Regions from separate parts of the Homo sapiens genome. Here region 2 is linked to region 1. The links come from fine-mapping of genetic effects on plasma protein levels. Region 1 holds a variant in brackets. A gene starts in the other region. All regions are shown on their forward strands.

Region 1 (9,487 bases):
CTCAGAAAAAAAAAAAAAAAGAAAACCTCATGGCAGGCAGGACATAAGTCAGTGCAGCGTGTGTGACTTCACCCTGCCTGGTGCAGCCTCAGGTCCTGTTGATAATTTGGCATCTTACTGCTGTATTCAGCCCTGCCAATTTTTTTTTTTTTTTTGAGACAGAGTCTCACTCTGTCTCCCAGGCTGGAGTGCAGTGGTGCGATCTCGGCTCACTGAAACCTCCGCCTCCCAGGTTCAAGCGATTCTCCTGCCTCAGCCTCCCGAGTAGCTGGGATTATAGGCGCCCGCCACCACGGCCAGCTAATTTTTTTATTTTTAGTAAAGATGGGGTTTCATCACGTTGGCCAGGCTGGTCTTGAACTCCTGACCTCAAGTGATCCACCCACCTCATCCTCCCAAAGTGCTGGGATTACAGGCGTGAACCACCACGCCTGGCCCAATCCTGCCAATCTTATGGTCTCTATTTCAACATTCACTCTGGGCATTTGTGTCTAAACCACAAAAGGGAGGGGCTCTAACGAGCTGTATATGTCCTCCTGTCCCGTCCTAGCTGGGAACTCAGGTGTTAAGGTTTCTCTGGGGTCTCCTTGGCTAACAGGCGTCCTTTTAGTTGACTGGGAGCTTAGAATTTTATTTTTAGTTCTCAAAGCTAATCTGAAAAGGCCGCATGCTGTATGATTCCAACTATACAACATTCCGGGAGAGGCAATCTACCCAGACAGTAAGAATCCTCAGTGGTTGCCAGGGAAGGGAGGGGTGAATAGTGGAGCTCGGGGGAATTTCGGGGCAGGGAAGCCTCTCCTGACACCATCATGGTGGATACCTGACCTCATGCACTTGCCAGGACTCCCGGAACGCAAGACGCCAAGACTGGCCCCCAATTCGAGCTGTGGACCCTGCGTGATGGGGCCAGGTCAGTGCAGATTCGTCGCACAGCAAGGACCCAGCACCAAGGCAAAGGCGCTAACAATAGGGGTGCAGAGTGTGTGTGAGGGGCGAGGCGAGGGGCACATGGGGGCTCCGTCTACTTTCCACTCAGCTTTTCCATAAACCCCAAACTGCTTTAGATAGTAGAGCCTATTAATTTTTAAAAAAGTGTAGCTATAAAAATTCCAAGAAAAGAGAAGGAAGAAAGTGGATGACAATCAGTATAATCTTGAGGGCATCCACGTGGCCAATGGACTTGTGAAAACGTGATCGGCTGCAGGCCCGCCTTGGCTGAGGGACCCCCTGCCGCACCGGCCATTCCCCCCACAAGCCCAGACTTCCTGGAAGAGCTGGGGTCCTGCGTGCCACCTGCTCCGCCTCCTTCGGCCTGCAATGGTTCATTCTGTGTCAGCTTGGCCAGGCCGCAGGACTCTGATGTTGGTCAAACAGCAGTCCAGAAGTTTCAGTGAAGGTATTTTTCGAAGATAAAATTACCGCTGAGATCAGTAGACTTTGAATCAGCAGGTCAGCCTCCGCGACACAGGAGTCTCATCCAGTCTATGAAGGCCGGAGAGAAAGGAGAGAAAGGAGGATGGAATCCTGCCTGCAGGCATCTTTGGATTTGAGTGGCTACTTCGGCTCCTCCTGCGTCCCCAGCCTGCCTGCCTGCCGTAGTCATGTGAGCCAATTTCTCCAAGTAAGTTTCTCTCTCTCTGTCTCCACATTCTATTGGTTCTTTTTTTTTTTTTCTTTTTTTGAGACGGAGTTTTGTTCTTGTTGTTTAGGCTGGAGTGCAATGGCGCGATCTCGGCTCACTGCAACTTCCATCTCCTGGGTTCAAGCAATTCTCCTGCCTCAACCTCCCAAGTACCTGAGATTACAGGCATGCGCCACCACCCACGGCTAATTTTGTATTTTTAGTATAGATGGGGTTTCTCCATGTTGGTCAGGCTGGTCTCGAACTCCTGACCTCAAGTGATCTGCTTGTCCTGACCTCCCAAAGTGCTGGGATTACAGGCATGAGCCACCACTCCCGGCCTATTGGTTCTATTTCTCTAGAGAACTCTCACTACTACAGCTACACCTCCCTGGGCCTCAGTTTCCCCTTCTGTCCATCAGCGAGGCCGAAGGCTGCCATGGGCTGAGGTCTCACACCCGGCGCTCCTGCCCCTGCCCCTGATTCCGGGGCAGCCTGCATAGGCCAGGCAGTGGTCGAGGCCCACTTTCCCCGCCCAGCAACTGTGGTTCAGCGGTTCAGCGGCTGACCTCCCAGCCCAGAAACAGAAACTCTTTTTCTCTTGCAAAACAGAAAGTGTCCCCATTAAACACTCACTTCCCGCTGGCTCCCCCGACCCCGGGCCCCACCGTCTGCTTTTTCTGCCTATGAACCGGCCCACTCTGGGGACCTCGTGTGTGGGGAGTCACACAGTGTTTGTCCTTTTGTGGCTTGTGCCCCTCGGTGTGACGTCCTCGAGGTTCCTCCACGCTGCGGCGGGTGTGGGAGCCCTTCCTTCCTGAGGTGACTCCCTCTGTGCGGAATCACCGTGCTGTCCGTTCCTTCCTCCGGCGGTGGACACGGAGCTGCTGCTTCCACATGGCCGCTGATTGTGAATTGCGCTGCTGGGAATGGGGTGCACTGACTTCCATCTTTTTAAGGCTGAATACTCCTCCATGTATGTAATAACTTGGTTTTGCAGGTTGAATTGAGATAAAAACTGAAGACCCCAAACCAATCTTGGATTCTGTGGCTAAGCAGTTGGGGACGACGGTGCCCCCGTGCCCGGGGCAGGCATCCTGCGCTCTCACAGCCCTGGCCAGTGGCACCGGCAGTGCCCCTCCGGCCACACCCCGGCCAGGTTTTCTAAGGCTGGACAAACACAGGGGCCCCCACTGGTGGGTGCGGCAGACTGACTGGGGTCAGAGGTATGGGGAGAACACGCGGAGATCCACCCAAGAAGGGGAGCGATTGTGCCACAGTCGAGGGGGCCACGGCGATGGTGTGGTCACACGGCCTCGGTCACCCTCCAGAGGACCCTCCACATCCTGAACTCTCCAGAATCTCAGGAGCCTCACCCAGACTCAGAGCGAGGTTTGTCCACACTGGAGCCCTGACGCACGAGGGTAGAGACCACCAGGACTCACACCGCAGCCCCCCATGCGGCCCCACCAGCCCCCAGGGCCTTGGCGCTGCACCCAGATCGCCAGCCCGGTCTCCTGTAGCCCGAGGGTGGGTTCCCTTTCAGAGGCCCCCCGCTCACCTTCGCTCCTGCTGGGAGCCCTGGGCGGACTCCCCCCCACCCCGCCCAATTCCAAGGACCCCGGGCTCCATCCACGAGGCCCACAGGACCCGCGGTCCCCCGTGCAGAGTAAGGCGTCCAACGCCCACGCACTCCGCAGACCCGGCCGGTGGGTGTGGGCGGGGCTGGGGTGGGGCGCAGGGGTGGGGGCGGCGCTGCAGGGTCGGGGGCGCGGGGGCGCGGGGGCGCGGGGGCGCGGGCGTGGGTGGAGCTGGCCGGGCTCAGGGGCCTGGGACACGGGGCGGGGCCGCGCCTCTCTCGCTCCGGGTCCCACGCGCCCCGGCCTCCTCCCGGCACTGTCCCCCGGGGAGCCCCGAGGCCCGGCCACACCCAGGGCGCTCCTGAAGCCGCCGCAGCTGCTGTGCGAGGCCGGGCCGACCCGCCTGGGGCGCGTGGGTGGGGCGGGAGCGCAGCCGCAGCCCGGCGGCGACACAGGCCCGGGGCCAGCCGGGGACGGAAAAAGTGAGTGCGCGGCGGCGCGGGGCGGCCTGACGGGAAGGCGGGAGGCGAAGTGCTGACTGCGCCGCGGTCTCTCAGCCGCCAACACACCGCGGACGCCCGGGGACAGCGACCGCTTCCTCCCTCCCCGCCCGCCTTGTCTCTTTTTGTGAGTATCGATCTGAGCTCATGTTCTTTTTAACGTACTCAAAGTGTGTCAATCAATTAGGCTTTTTTTTTTTTTTTTTTTGACAGGGTCTTGCTCTGTCGCCCAGGCTGGAGTCAGTGGCACCATCGTGGCTCACTGCGGCCTCCACCTCCGGGACTCCAGGGATCCTCCCGCCTCAGCCTCCCGAGGAGCTGGGACCACCGCACCTGGCTAATTTTAAAATTTTTCCTTAGAGACAGGATCTCACTTTGCTGCCCAGGCTGGTCTCAAACTCCTGGGCTCAAGCGACCCTCCCGCCTCGGCCTCCCAAAGTGCCACCGTGCCAAGCCTCAGTTAGGTTTTTAATTTTAATTTGGCATTGTTTGATGCTCAGACTGCTGCCGTGTCATTTTCACACGACAGCAAGTTGGGGACAGCGAGTTGTTCTGTCCTGCGCGTGTGTCCCCTCATGGTCTTGAGTGACCTGACCCTCTGTGGGGAGCCCTGAGCCTCCTCCCTGCTCCCGCGGCCCCAGCTCTCAGCTGATGGAGGCTCCGGGGCGGGCTCAAGCCCCCGGCCGGCTTTGGACGGCTTTGCCGTTGCCGAGCCAGCGCCGTGAGCTCGTGGGCTCTGCGTCTGCACATGTTTGCCGGTGACCTCTGGGAAGTGTTTCGACGAGGATGGGGGTTGAGGGGGCAAAGGGCAAGTGCCCACCGC[C/T]TACCAGACAGCACCGGTGCGTCTCCAGCTCGGCTTCCCCGCCAGCCCCTCAGGCCTGCTCCCTGCTGCCTCGCCAACAGCCGCACCGTTGTCAGAGCTCTGTCAGCCTGGTGGATGTAGTTTCAACTTGTATTTTTGTTGAGAGAACCTGAACAACCTTTCATTGTTTAAGGGATATGGGTATGCACGCAGGCACTGCCGTATATACATATATTGTAGATACACACGTCCGCACACCTGTACACACACACCCACACACATACCCCTGTGTATGTACATACACACATTTGTATGCACACATATGTCTACACACGTGTAGACACGTGCACACACAGGCTCACGCACACACATTTTCTCTGAGCTGTTGGGTTATGTCTCCTGCACTTTCTCGTGTATTTTTGACCTTGCTTTTTCCAGACTCTTAGATCTTCCTACGACTGGCATATTCGCTCTTTTGTGGTGGTGCAAACATTTTCCCTCAGTTTGTTTATGATTTTTTTTGCCAAGCTAAAGTTTTTTGTTTTCCAATATATGGAGTTCAGTGTATCAGTCTTCTCTTTAATTGTTGCCTGATGTCCTTTATTCATTGGGAATGCCTTCCCCTCCCACACTGCAAGAATGCACCCACGGTTTCTTGTTTCTTGTAGGGTTCCTTTTTTTTTCTTTTTTGAGACGGAGTCTTGCTGTGTCGCCCAGGCTGGAGTGCAGTGGCATGATCTCGGCTCACTGCAAGCTCCGCCTCCCGGGTTCACGCCATTCTCCTGCCTCAGCCTCCCGAGTAGCTGGGACCACAGGTGCCCGCCACCATGCCCGGCTAATTTTTTGTGTTTTTAGTAGAGACAGGGTTTCACCGTGTTAGCCAGGATGGTCTCAATCTCCTGACCTTGTGATCCACCCGCCTCGACCTCCCAAAGTGCTGGGATCACAGGCGTGAGCCACCACGCGCGGCCAGGGTTCTTTTTGTATGCTTTTCTCTCTGCTGCATTTGGGATTTTGTGCATATGAGTCTAACTTAATACTTTTCCAGATGGCTATCCCTATCCCTGGGCAGTTGGTTAAAAAGTCGTTTTTCCCCTCACTGATTTGGGTCGCAGGGACTGGGCCTGTTCCTGTGTCTTCTGGTGCTTATCCCACCCTGTTTTCATTACAGTAAGTTTCCCCTGAGCTCATAAAGCTGGTCCTCTTTCACTTTCTTTTCATGGTTTTTTTGGCTGTTACTTGCTTGTTAATTTTTCCATATGAGCATGGTAGTTCCAGAACTGTGGTTTTTACTGGGATCGTATTAAATTTACAAATTGTATCGGAAGAACGTGCATGTTTGCAGCTGTGGCGCCTCTTCGGGGCCCGGGGGTCAGGGTGCCTTTGATTGAGTTCAGCCTCTGCGGCAGCTTTCCCACGTTTCTGGCTAGGTTTATGCCGGGAGCATCTTCTCTCTTGCTGTCCTAGATGAAACATCGCCCGCCACTCCGTCTCCTAGCGCACTGTGCTGTGAATGGGGTGAATGGGTGTATGAGAGCCGTGAATTTTGGACGCTGGCGCGCTGCGCTGTGAATGGGTGTTTGAGAGCCTTGAGTTCTGGATGCTAGCGCGCTGCGCTGTCAATGGATGAATGAGAGCCGTGAGTTCTGGATGCTGGCGCGCTGCGCTGTGAATGGGTGTTTGAGAGCCTTGAGTTCTGGATGCTGGCGCGCTGCGCTGTCAGTGGATGAATGAGAGACGTGAGTTCTGGATGCTAGCGCCCTGCGCTGTCAATGGATGAATGAGAGCCGTGAGTTCTGGATGCTGGCGCGCTGCGCTGTGAATGGGTGTTTGAGAGCCTTGAGTTCTGGATGCTGGCGCGCTGCGCTGTCAATGGATGAATGAGAGCCTTGAGTTCTGGATGCTGGCGCGCTGCGCTGTCAGTGGATGAATGAGAGACGTGAGTTCTGGATGCTGGCGCGCTGCGCTGTGAATGGGTGTATGAGAGCCTTGAGTTCTGGATGCTGGCGCGCTGCGCTGTGAATGGGTGTTTGAGAGCCTTGAGTTCTGGATGCTGGCGCGCTGCGCTGACAATGGATGAATGAGAGCCTTGAGTTCTGGATGCTGGCGCGCCGCGCTGTCAGTGGATGAATGAGAGACGTGAGTTCTGGACGCTGGTGCGCAGCGCTGTCAATGGATGAATGAAAGCCTTGAGTTCTGGATGCTGGCGCGCTGCGCTGTGAATGGGTGTTTGAGAGCCTTGAGTTCTGGATGCTGGCGTGCTGCGCTGTCAGTGGATGAATGAGAGACGTGAGTTCTGGACGCTGGCGCGCTGCGCTGTCAATGGATGAATGAGAGCCTTGAGTTCTGGATGCTGGCGCGCTGCGCTGTGAATGGGTGTTTGAGAGCCTTGAGTTCTGGATGCTGGCGTGCTGCGCTGTCAGTGGATGAATGAGAGACGTGAGTTCTGGACGCTGGCGCGCTGCGCTGTCAATGGATGAATGAAAGCCTTGAGTTCTGGATGCTGGCGCGCTGCGCTGTGAATGGGTGTATGAGAGCCTTGAGTTCTGGATGCTGGTGCGCTGCGCTGTCAATGGATGAATGAGAGCCGTGAGTTCTGGATGCTGGCGCGCTGCGCTGTGAATGGGTGTTTGAGAGCCTTGAGTTCTGGATGCTGGCGCGCTGCGCTGTCAGTGGATGAATGAGAGACGTGAGTTCTGGATGCTAGCGCGCTGCGCTGTCAATGGATGAATGAGAGCCGTGAGTTCTGGATGCTGGCGCGCTGCGCTGTGAATGGGTGTTTGAGAGCCTTGAGTTCTGGATGCTGGCGCGCTGCGCTGTCAATGGATGAATGAGAGCCTTGAGTTCTGGATGCTGGCGCGCTGCGCTGTCAGTGGATGAATGAGAGACGTGAGTTCTGGATGCTGGCGCGCTGCGCTGTGAATGGGTGTATGAGAGCCTTGAGTTCTGGATGCTGGCGCGCTGCGCTGTGAATGGGTGTTTGAGAGCCTTGAGTTCTGGATGCTGGCGCGCTGCGCTGACAATGGATGAATGAGAGCCTTGAGTTCTGGATGCTGGCGCGCTGCGCTGTGAATGGGTGTTTGAGAGCCTTGAGTTCTGGATGCTGGCGCGCTGCGCTGTGAATGGGTGTTTGAGAGCCTTGAGTTCTGGATGCTGGCGCGCTGCGCTGTCAATGGATGAATGAAAGCCTTGAGTTCTGGATGCTGGCGCGCTGCGCTGTGAATGGGTGTTTGAGAGCCTTGAGTTCTGGATGCTGGCGCGCCGCGCTGTCAGTGGATGAATGAGAGACGTGAGTTCTGGACGCTGGCGCGCTGCGCTGTCAATGGATGAATGAGAGCCTTGAGTTCTGGATGCTGGCGCGCTGCGCTGTGAATGGGTGTTTGAGAGCCTTGAGTTCTGGATGCTGGCGCGCTGCGCTGTCAGTGGATGAATGAGAGACGTGAGTTCTGGATGCTGGCGCGCTGCGCTGTCAATGGATGAATGAAAGCCTTGAGTTCTGGATGCTGGCGCGCTGCGCTGTGAATGGGTGTATGAGAGCCTTGAGTTCTGGATGCTGGTGCGCTGCGCTGTCAATGGATGAATGAGAGCCGTGAGTTCTGGATGCTGGCGCGCTGTGCTGTGAATGGGTGTTTGAGAGCCTTGAGTTCTGGATGCTGGCGCGCTGCGCTGTCAGTGGATGAATGAGAGCCGTGAGTTCTGGATGCTGGCGCGCTGCGCTGTGAATGGGTGTTTGAGAGCCTTGAGTTCTGGATGCTGGCGCGCTGCGCTGTCAATGGATGAATGAGAGCCGTGAATTCTGGACGCTGGCGCGCTGCGCTGTGAGTGGGTGTTTGAGAGCTGTGAGTTCTGGACGCTGATCTCACAGGCAGCACTCTATGGCTTTCTCATTGCCTGTGGTCATTTTCCATGGGACCTATCGGGTTTTGCGGATGGAAACCCACATCATGTGCAGAGCCCCCGGGCAGCGTTCCCTGCCAGGCCTGATCTGCCGGATCTCACCGGGAGTTCCCAGAGCTGCGAGGTCTCTGTGCCTGTCCCTGACACAGGCATGGGGTCCAGGACTGGGCTCCAGGATGGCAAGCAGAGAATGAGCCCCGGGGTGTCAGTGGGTGTTTGGCTGCGGTGCCCGAGGGCCTGGCAGGGCTCCTTTCCCTGCACCGTCCCTGCTGCTAGCTGCCAAGGACCGCAGCAGGGTGATAGGGCTCCAGCAGACGTGACCCCGCCTCCCCCGCTGCCCCCACCCTGTGTACTTAGGGAGGGACCCGCAGATGCTGTGTCCCTCATAGCCCAGGGCAGCCCTCCCACCCCGCTGTGGACGCCCTGGCACCAGGTACCACCCCTGCCCGGAGGGACTGGTAGGCATGGGGACACGGGGGCTATGGAGCAGGCACAGTCACTCAGGGACACCCATGCCTGGCCAGGAAGCCTGGGGCCAGGGGGCCGTGGGACCCCCCTAAAAGGCCTGGGCTTGGGGAAGATGGTGTCCCCAGCCCCGTGATGTTGGAGGAATTTTTCACCGGAGGGCTCTACATGTGAGTGGGGCAAACAGGGCGAGGAGGGCCTGTGTGTTTCTGGGACAGCGAGGGGAAGGCCTGACTCAGGCCAGGATCCAGGGGAGCCACCAGCACCCTCCACACACAGCCTCAGCCTGGCTGCCGCCTTGTCCCTCCCTGGAGGCCTCCCTCCCTCCTGCCCACTGCCCCCACAGCCACCAGACAGGACAGAACTCCTTAGCATGCTCTCATATTTAATTATAATTATAATATAATAGAACCACAGGGAAGGGGGATCCCTTGTCCCAGCCACTCAGGTGCCTGCTGGCCGCCTGGATGCTGGTGGCCCTGCCCCAGGAGTGGGGGTGCAGTGTGTGGATGTGAGGAGTGGATAGGCCACGGCGGGGGTACTAGGCCCCGGGGGAACGCCTGTACCTTCCCACCCAGGCCCTGGTGGGAGCCCGGCCAACCCCTTTAAATAATTTCAG
Region 2 (9,401 bases), not on the chromosome of region 1:
GTTCGGCCCTGTTCAAGTCAGCCATGGGACCTCCCCGGCACATGTCAGAGGATGTTTTCCTTCTTGCCTTGAGAGCTGGCCAGGCCCCAGCAGCTTGGGGTGGAAGGACAAGGGGAACCAGACACCGTTCCGTAGCCACCCCTTTTTCATTGTCTTCGCAGCAGAGCGATATGGAGCCTTTGAGGTCTGCTGGAGGGGAGTAGGGGGCTCAGCCCCAGACAATGTCTGGGACCCCCATCACCCGGCTTGCTGAAGCCCTGTCCGCCAAACCCCTGCCCTTTTGAAGGACAGCCAAGCAAAGCTGGGCGGGGCTGGTCGAGGGGAGGGCCAGTGCCCTCCGCTGCCCTGGCCAGCGGGGGTGGGAGCAGAGGGCCAGCTCAGCAGCTGAAGCCATGGAGATTAGAGGTAACTGAGGCTGCGGACAGCCATCGGAGGTGAGAGGTGTAGAGAGAGGCCAGGAACCCCCACCCAAGCAGAGAAGGACAGAGCAGAGGGAGAAATGGGTGCCCGAGTGGGACAGGTGTCCTTGGGGAGGGCTGACACCTGGACGGGGAGGGGCAGCTTCCCTTTCCTCCTGGACTCACAGGCTCTGGGGCTGGGGCTCTGGGGGCCCAGTGGCGGCGGAGACGGCAGTGGCGGCAGCTACAGCAGGTAGGCTGGGTTGGAGCGCCAGGTGCCAGGCACCAGGCAGGCGGGCTGGCAGGGGGGCGGCCCTGGGCGGGCCCAGGATGACTGGCCTCCAAGCCCTGCCTTAATGCCCCGGGGCGGGGTGTGTGTGAGGGCCCTCCCCGGAGGCCTCTGAGGCACTGGCTGCCTGCCTGTGCCACCTCTCCAAGCCCCTCTTCTCCCTGTGTCTCAGCCTCCCTCTGTCTGTCTGTCTGTCTGCAGCCTTCCTTTCCCTGCCCTGAGTCTCTGAATCTGTGTCTCGTTCTATGTGTCATTCCCTGTCATTCAGTAATTCTGACTTTGTGTGATTTTTCTCTTTCTGTCCCTATGTGTCTGTCTGCCTTTCTCTGTCCTCGTCCCTGTCTCCATCTCCACTCTTCTCTCTCTGTCTGGCTCTGTGTGGCCCTTTCTCTAATTCCTTCTATCTTTGTGTCTCTCAGTCAGTCTCTCTGACTGCATCTCTGGCAATTTGTCTTGAAATCCCTCTTCTTCCATCTAATCTCCGTCTCTCTTTTTCCTCCCGTCCCAGCCACTCCCTCTCCACAGCCCCAGCCCAGGTGGGCCCCTGGCCTCCCCTAGGCCGCTCCCTTCTCCTTTGCAAGGAGAGGGGGGGTGTGCTGGGATGTCACACAGGTGGGGCTGCTGCCAGGCACAGGGGCAGGACCGGAGGGTGGGGGAGGCAGGTCAGGGCCTGTGGAAGCCGAGTCCAGGAAAGGGAACAGAGCCCTTGGCTGTGCTCCACCCCAGGGCTCCTCTGGGGCCTCGCTCCTCTGCTGACCCTTCCCCTGCCCGCTTCTCCCTGCCGCCCAGGCAGCCCGAGTCCAGCTGTTCACTTACTGGCTGCTGTGAGACCTCTGCCCGATGACTTCCAGTCCCGCAGCCACCTCAACCTCTGCATCTGCGGAACCCGAGCGCAGATTCCTGCTTCTCCCAGCTTGTTTGTTTTCAGTTAGGTCCCTTCCCTTGGCTTTCCTCCCCTCTCTCCCCTGACCAGGTGTGGAGCAAGGCAGGGGAGGGCCTAGGTTCTGACAGCAGCCAGCCCTGGCCTCAAACCTAGGTGCTTCCTCTTCCTACTACTATGACTACCCTTATGACGTGGGGACAAGGGACTCCACCCCTGCAAGGCTCAGTTTCTTCATCTGAGAGATGGGGGTGACAGACCTGCTTGCAGGGGAGGTTGGGATCAGGCTTCCAGGAGGGTCCACTTGGAAAGAGCAGACTGCGGGGGGGCTCAGCAAATGTGCCTCCGCTGGTATGATCACCCCTCACTCCCTCCCTCCTCCAGTTTCCCTTCAGTGCATTTGGGGAGATGGTCTCTCCTCACCTCTTGAGTCCCAGTGGAGACAGAATCCAAGGGGTGGGCAGGAGGATTAAAGACGTAGGCTGAGCTCTCCTGCTTTCCAAGCCTGCACTCCACCCTTCGTCTTATTAGAACAAAGCCACGTCCCACATTAAAGATACAATGTATGCTTCATTACAAGAAAGTAAACTGCAGTTGGCTAGTGGAAAGAATGCTACGTTTTATGGACATTGGATTAAATGGTCATAAATGTTGACTTTGCAGCTTTCATCTGGTATTTTGGAGCTAACAATTTTCTTTTTCTTTTTCGGGTCTTTTGTGGACTCTTGAAAAGCTTATAAGCTCTGGGCACTATTTCTATTATGCCAGATGAAGAAACATGTGTCTTATTTATATTGCTGGGTTTTTGTTTTTGAGACAAGGTCTCACTTTATTGCCCAGGCTGGAGTGCAGTGGCATGATCTCGGCTCTTTGCAGCCTCCACCTCCCCGGCTCGGGTGATCCTCCCACCTCAGCTTCCCAAGTAGCTGGGACTACAGGCACGCACCACCACACCCAGCTAATTTTTTGTGTTTTTGTAGTGACAAGATTTCACTGTGTTGCCAGGCTGATCTCGAAATCTGAGCTCAAGCCATCCTCCCACCTCGGCCTCCCAAAGTGCTGGGATTACAGGCGTGGGCCACTGCACCCGGCCTATATTATTAAAAGTAACTTTTTCTACTCCATTTCTGAGTAACTACTCAGGGAAGACCCTCATCCTATTTGAGCACTGGGTTTTTTGTTTGTTTGTTTTTGAGATGGAGTCTCGCTCTGTCGCCCAGGCTGGAGTGTAATGGTTCAATCTCGGCTCGCTGCAGCCTCTGCCTCACGGGTTCATGCTATTCTCCTGTCTCAGCCTCCTGAGTAGCTGGGATTACAGGCATGCGCCACCATGCCTGGCTAATTTTTGCATTTTTAGTAGAGTTGGGGTTTCACTATGTTGACCAGGCTGGTCCCGAGTTCCTGACCTCAGGTGATCCACCTGCCTCAGCTTCCCAAAGTGATGGGATTACAGGTGTGAGCCACTGTGCCTGGCCTTATTTGAGCTCTGTTTCTACTCCTATGAGATAGGGAAACTGCTGAGTCCTTCTTCCAGTCTCAACCAGCATGAGGACTTCAAATGGACAGACATGGCCCCTCCTTCATTTATATTTATTCCAGACTATTGCACACTTCTCTCACCCCGCTCGTGGGTCTTAGAAGGGCTGGCAGGAGTTAAAGTTCCAAGAAGTTCCCAGGCCAACAAGAGTGGAGCTAGGGGAAGTGATGGAGGAGATATTGGTGCTCTGAGGGCCAGAGGGGTACCCAAGTTAAGGGGTGGGGGTGGAGGTGGAGGAAACAGGTCAGTTGTTCCTCATGATCATCCGGATCCAGTCCACATACTTGCAAATATAGGTGTAGACTCCAGGGATGCCATCTTGTCCACAGGGCCCCACAGACCCCCAGGACACCAGACCTTGAAGGACTCCCCCACACACCAGGGGGCCCCCAGAATCACCCTGGAAGGGAAGAGAAGTACTGTCTGAACAAGGGAGACATCTTATTTCTGTTTTCCTCCCCAACCCTTCAACCCAGTCCTGGGCCTTGGGGAGGGCTCCAAGTCTGGTCATTAGACAAAAGAGTATAATCACTTTCCCGGAGGACAATGGCAATGGCTAACCAAAAGAGAAGAACCACTGTCTCTAGGGGCCAATCCCAGGGAAGAAGGGTGGAACTCCATAAAGGACAGAGGTTCTCTCAAGGACAATGGCTGGGGCCCTGACCAATGAGGAGAGAGAGCACAGTCATTAATGACCAATCTCAGGGGAGGCTGTCAAGACAACATAAAGAGTCGAGCATTCTCTCAAGGACAATGGCTGGGGCCCTGACCAATGAGGAGAGAGAACACTATTATCAATGACCAATCCCAGGGGAGGAGGGTGGGACTCCATAAAGGATAGAGGTTCTCTCAAGGACAATGCCTGGGGTTCTGACCAATGAGGGGAGAGAGTGCCATCAAAAATGACCAATCCCAGGGAAGGTGGGCAGGACTCCATCAAAAGCACAGAGTTCTCTCAAGGACAATGGCTGGGGCCCTGACCAATGAGGGGAGAGACCGCCATCCTCAAATCTCTCTCAGTCTGGGACAGCACCAACTGGAGGATGGTATGGGAAAGACTTAGAGCCCCAGAAACAGCTGGTTCCCTGTCTGGGCTCCCAGTCCTCTCCGTCTGTTTTGCTGTCTCTCTCTGTAACCCCTGCCCCATCTTTCCTTCTCTGTTCCCTTCCTCCCTCTCTCTCCCTGCCCCTCCCCCTCCTCCATTCCCCGGTCCTCCCTTTTACTCCCTGTCTCTCTCCCTCCCTTATCCTGGGCCTCTCCTCCATTATTATTATTATTATTATTATTATTATTATTAATTATTTTGTTTTGAGACAGAGTCTGGCTCTGTCGCCCAGGCTGGAGTGCAGTGGCGTGATCTCAGCTCACTGCAACCTCCGCCTCCCGGGATCAAGCGATTCTCCTGCCTCAGCCTTCCAAGTAGCTGGGGCCACAGGCTTGCACCACCACCCCCGGCTAATTCTGGTATTTTTAGTAGATTCAGAGTCTCACCGTGTTGGCCAGGCTTGTCTTGAACTCCTGACCTCAAGTGATCCGCCCGCCTCGGCCTCCCAAAGTGCTGGGATTACAGGTGTGAGCCTCCGTAACCAGCCTCTCCCTTCCTTTTTGACCCCGTCTCTCTGCAGCATCCCCTTTCCCTGATTCATCCTCCATCAGTTCCCCTCCTGCTTCCAGCCCCTCCCCTTCACTTCCTGTCCTGGTGACCACGCACGCTGCCTGCACTGGCTCACCTGGCAGGCATCCTGCCCCGGGACGCCGCCTGCACACACCATGTTGCTCGTGATTCTCCCGGGATACACACCATGGCAGGTGGCATGGGAGACGATGGAGAGGTTGAGGCACTGGAGCAGATCCGGGAATGGGTCTGGAGAGAGAACATGCGTGCTGCAGGGTCCCCTAAATCTCCCCACTTTGAGGCCACGTCCCTCTTCCCTGGATGTGGCCCATCCATGTCAATACCCCTGCCCCTCACCGACCTGTACTACAATCCCGAAACCTCCAAGTTACATATTTATGACTTAATTTCATATGAATCATGACCCCAGATGATTGACGGTCTCTTTGATCTTTGACATTTGACTTTGAGTGGCATAACTCAAGAACTTTCTTGTCTCTCCAGCGTCAGAGACAACGAATCCAGACCTGACCCTCTTCAATGCCAGCTACTGTGATCTTTGACCTTCTGTCTTATTACCTTATGATCCCAGCTTGATCTCATATCTTCTGTCTCCTGACCCCATGTCCCTGTCTTTACCTTAACCTCCAACCTCAGCTCTGCATCTTCCAAACCTCACTGCTTCCAACGCCAGTGTCCCCTGATCCTAGTTTATTGGGCCCCAGCCTCCATGACCCCAAACTTCGGGCCCCACACCCCAAACGCTATGACCTCCAATCTCAGATATGTGATTTTGGATAGAATCCCAATTTCCATCCTCAGATTTTGACCAGATTGTACAACCTCTGGATCCCATGACCTTAATTCTACGGTGACCTCTAACCCCAGACCCATGACCCACAATGCCCATATCCTATACATACATATATATATATATATGCCTTTTGCTCCAGTGTGATGACCTCTGACACACTCTGACCTCTGACCTCTGATCCCTGACTTCATACCCAGTCCTTTAACCCCTTTGGCTCCCAAGACCCCAATCCACCATAATCTCTGACCCCAAACCATGATCCTGATGTCCCATCCCACACCCTGACCCTTTACCCATCCTTCCTCTGAGGTGTCATGATTCGACCTCTCGCCCTGCATCCCAGACTTGTACCCATCCTGACCCCTGACCCCTGGCCCTGGGCCCCTTACTCCGTGGGTGGTTGGTGATGCCCCAGCCTGAGACGTGGCACTCGGTGCCAGCGGTTGCACAGTCATTGGGCAGGGGCAGGGGTTGAACGCTGCTGGTTACGCGGACGGGCAGGCGCAGCCGCAGCAGCCGGAGGTCGTGCTCGTGGCTCGTCGAGGCTCCCAGGTAGCCGGGATGGGTCACAGAGAAGCCGCTGTGCCGGATCTGCTCGGTCCAGTCGAGCTGGCTGAGGCTGTGTTCCCCCAGGCGCACCCAGTACCTGCTGCCGGTGGCGACGGCTGAGCGGGTGGCAGGCACGCAGTCCCCCACCTTGCACCCCTCCACGGACACTCAGGCGCTCCTGCCGCTCCCCACTGTTCTGCCCCTCACTGTCTGTCCTCTCACCCGCAACTCTCATTCTCCGAGTCTCTCTTACAGGCTCTTATTCCCAACCTCCATCACCCTCTTTCCATCTTGGGTGTTCCCTGTTTCTCCTACCATGTCCCTGCATCTGTGTCTCTCTCTCTCCTTTTTTTTTTTTTTTTTTTTTTCAAGACCGAGTCTCGCTCTGTCGCCCAGGCTGGAGTGCAGTGGCACCATCTTGGCTCACTACAACCTCCACCTCCCAGGTTCAAGCAATTCACCTGCCTCAGCCTCCCAAGTAGCTGGGATTACAGAAGCATGCCACCATGCCCAGCTAATTTTTGTATTTTTAGTAGAGATAAGGTTTCACCATGTGTGTCAGGCTGGTCTCAAACTCCTGACCTCAAGTGATCCGCCCGCCTCGGCCTCCCAAAGTGCTGGGATTACAGGTGTGAGCCACCGCGCCAGGCCTCTCTTTCTGATTCTCTCGGCTGGTGAAGCCCATGAAGGCAGGGACATCAGTGGACCTTGTTCACTGCCTTATTCCCACCGCCTGGCACGGAGCATGTGCCCTCCATGCTCATGCGTGGACGAGTGGGTTCATGATTGAACGAGTGGGTTGATGAATGGCCTCTCTGCATCCTGCTGCTGGCCCTCTCTCTCCCTGAGTCTCTGTTTCTTTGCATCTGATCTCCCCTTTCACAAAAAAAGTTCCAGGCCAGGCACAGTGGCTCATGCCTGTAATCCCAGCACTTTGGGAGGTCAAGGCAGGAAGATTGCTTGAGCTGAGGAGTTTGAGACCAGCCTGGGTAACATAGCAAAACCCTGTCTCTACAAAAAAAATTTAAAAATTAGCCAGGTGTGGTGGCGCAGGCCTGTAGTCTTAGCTCCTTGGGAGGCTGAGGTGTGAGGATCACTTGAGCCCAGGTGGTTGAGGCTGTAGTGAGCCAAGATAGCATCACTGCACTCCAGCTTGGATGACAGAAAGAGCAAGACTCTGTCTCCAAAAAAAAAAAAAAAGAAAGAAAAAGAAAAAAATTCCAGAACATCAGTCTACTGAGGCCCAGAGAGGTGCCAGGCATAGATTCTGAAGTTGCACAAAGAGTTTGGGTCATGTTGGCCGGGTGCAGTGGCTCACACCTGTAATCCCAGCACTTTGGGAGGCCAAGACGGGCAGGTCATTTGAGGCCAGGAGTTCGAGACCAGCCTGGCCAACATGGCAAAACCCTGTCTCTACAAAAAATACAAAAATTAGCTGGGCATGGTGGCGGGTGCCTGTAATCCCAGCTACTCAGGAGGCTGGGGCAGGAGAATCACTTGAACCTGGGAGGCAGAGACAGCAGTGAGCTGTGATCACGCCATTGCACAGCAGCCTGGGCGACAGAGCGAGACCCTGTCTCAAAAAAATAAAAAAAAGAAAAAGAAAAAGAGCTTGGGTGAGACCTGGGCCCCGGGCCCAGACTGGGTCAAGGAATGGCTGGGGTGAGTGGCAGATGTCATATAGGAAAGAAAGGGTACATGCAGGAATGGGAGAGGCAGGAGGGCAGGTTCCAGGACCCTCCCCGGCCCTCCACCCAACATACCTCACCCTGCCCAGCACCACCCCAGGCCCACTGCTAAGGAAGTTCCACTCCTGGTCTAACCTCAGACTCTCTTGTTGCAGGATCAGCTTCTTCCCAGTGGGCACCACCCTCCCTTGTGATCCTACCCCCAGCGCTTGCCTTCCCATAGTCCTCCCTTCGCCCACCCCAGGAAGGGACTTACCTGCCGCTGCAGTGAGCCGCTGTGAGGACCCACCTGTGGTCAATAAGGACACCCCCGCAGCGCAGGCTGGTGCCCTCAAACAGCCCCACCTGCCACGGCTGTGAGTTACGCCCACACTCAGTGCCATTGAAAATCTTCGGTGTGGCTGCCTGGCTGAGCCCTGGAGACAGACAGGGGCATGGGTCAGAGAGAGGAAGAAAAGATACAGAGATGGAGAGACACACAGAGTGAGAGAGAGAAACAGGCAGGAGAGAGAGAGGAGAAAGAGAGACGAGAAAGAGAGAGAAAGAGAGAGAGACCCAGTGATAGAAAAAGACCATGAAACATCAAAGACACCCAGGGAGAAAGATGCTTACACATAGGAGGGAAATGGAGAGACAGAGATTCAGAGAGGGACAGAAGGGAAGAGGGATCAAAAAATAGGGGAGACCGAGGTGAGCAGTACCCTGAGAGCTGCAGGTAAATGGAGGCACAGAGAAAGCCCCTCTCCTCCTCACCACCAGGCTGGGGGCCAGAGCTGAGATGGGGAGGGTGGTGGGGCCTCCTCATGGGGGTGAAGGGATCCAGTCGCAGTCCTGCCCTCTCCCTGCTCCGGGAGAACTCACCAAGAACACACAGGAGCAAAAAGATGCTGAGCCCCATGGTGGGTCACTTCCAAAGTCTGGGGGAAAAGGGGAATCTCAGAGGTCACCCTTTCCCTGTGCCCCCCACCTCTGCCCTCTCTGCTTCTCTTTGAAGGTCACCAAGGGGATGACCTGCTTGTCCTCTCTCTACCTGCTCCCCTGTGTGTCACTCCCTCATTGGCAGTCGCCTACCTCCTTCTCACCTTGTCTCTTTGTCTGCCAGATCCTCTACGTGGCTGTCACTGTTTGGCCTGTCCTCGTCGCTGCTATCTCTCCGTCCACCTACCTGCCTGTCTTCTCATGTGCTGGCCACTCCGCCAGCCAACTCTACCACTCTGCACCTGGCTCCTCAGCCACCTGTCATGTTGCTCAACCGGTCCCTTTCCTTCCATCTGTCGCTCCAGACAGACCACTGACAAAGCTCTTAACTCTCTTTGTCCTGGCCCATCCAGTTTCCGGGTTAAGGGAAGGGGACCACGAAGACAGGGGTGGGGCGTGCTCTAATTCTGCAGAAACTCTTCTCAGCTAATCACACTTAATTGAGCTTTACAGCTAAACGGAGTGGGGAAGGAGGAAAGGACCCAGGGTGGGAAGACCCAGCCCCACTCCCTCTCTCCTCTGCAAGCCCGTCAGCAGCCCCAGGACTGATGACTCAAGGTGACTAGGGAGCTGGGTTCTAATCCTGACTCCAGTGACAAAGGAGGGTGGGGAGACCTTGGACACCTGGGGCCCATCCCCATGCAGTGCAGGGG

Direction of the effects. Alleles are on the strand shown, and positions count from the first base shown. The strength of an association depends on the size of the effect and on how common the allele is.
As copies of T replace C in region 1, the plasma level of the protein whose gene starts at base 663 in region 2 goes down (strong association).

What was found. PIP is the posterior inclusion probability: the model's chance that the variant is causal. Protein levels are from antibody-based Olink assays in UK Biobank. Linkage for the fine-mapping came from a reference panel and not from the study's own genotypes, which makes the PIPs less certain.
Region 2: KLK11 starts here. The variant in region 1 is fine-mapped to the plasma level of the KLK11 protein (UK Biobank, PIP above 0.99).

Annotation. Positions count from the first base shown.
Region 1 is chr2:241,840,648-241,850,134 of GRCh38, forward strand. LOC124905350 (a long non-coding RNA gene) reads left to right here and starts at 3,520. Exons shown (of 2, transcript XR_007088410.1): 1 at 3,520-3,831; 2 at 3,918-5,833. It overlaps PDCD1 (programmed cell death 1), which reads right to left. Exons shown (of 5, transcript NM_005018.3): 5 at 9,237-9,487. RefSeq lists silencers at 1,279-1,438, 2,370-2,664 and an enhancer at 2,042-2,739. The variant C/T (reference allele first, on the strand shown) is at 4,528.
Region 2 is chr19:51,025,954-51,035,354 of GRCh38, forward strand. It overlaps KLK11 (kallikrein related peptidase 11), which reads right to left and starts at 663. Exons shown (of 6, transcript NM_001136032.3): 1 at 585-663. It overlaps KLK12 (kallikrein related peptidase 12), which reads right to left and starts at 9,049. Exons shown (of 6, transcript NM_001370125.1): 1 at 8,853-9,049; 2 at 8,632-8,687; 3 at 8,027-8,186; 4 at 5,923-6,182; 5 at 4,835-4,968; 6 at 3,141-3,504. The coding sequence starts at 8,668. The coding sequence ends at 3,349. RefSeq lists enhancers at 1-300, 301-858, 1,418-1,974 and a silencer at 4,007-4,238.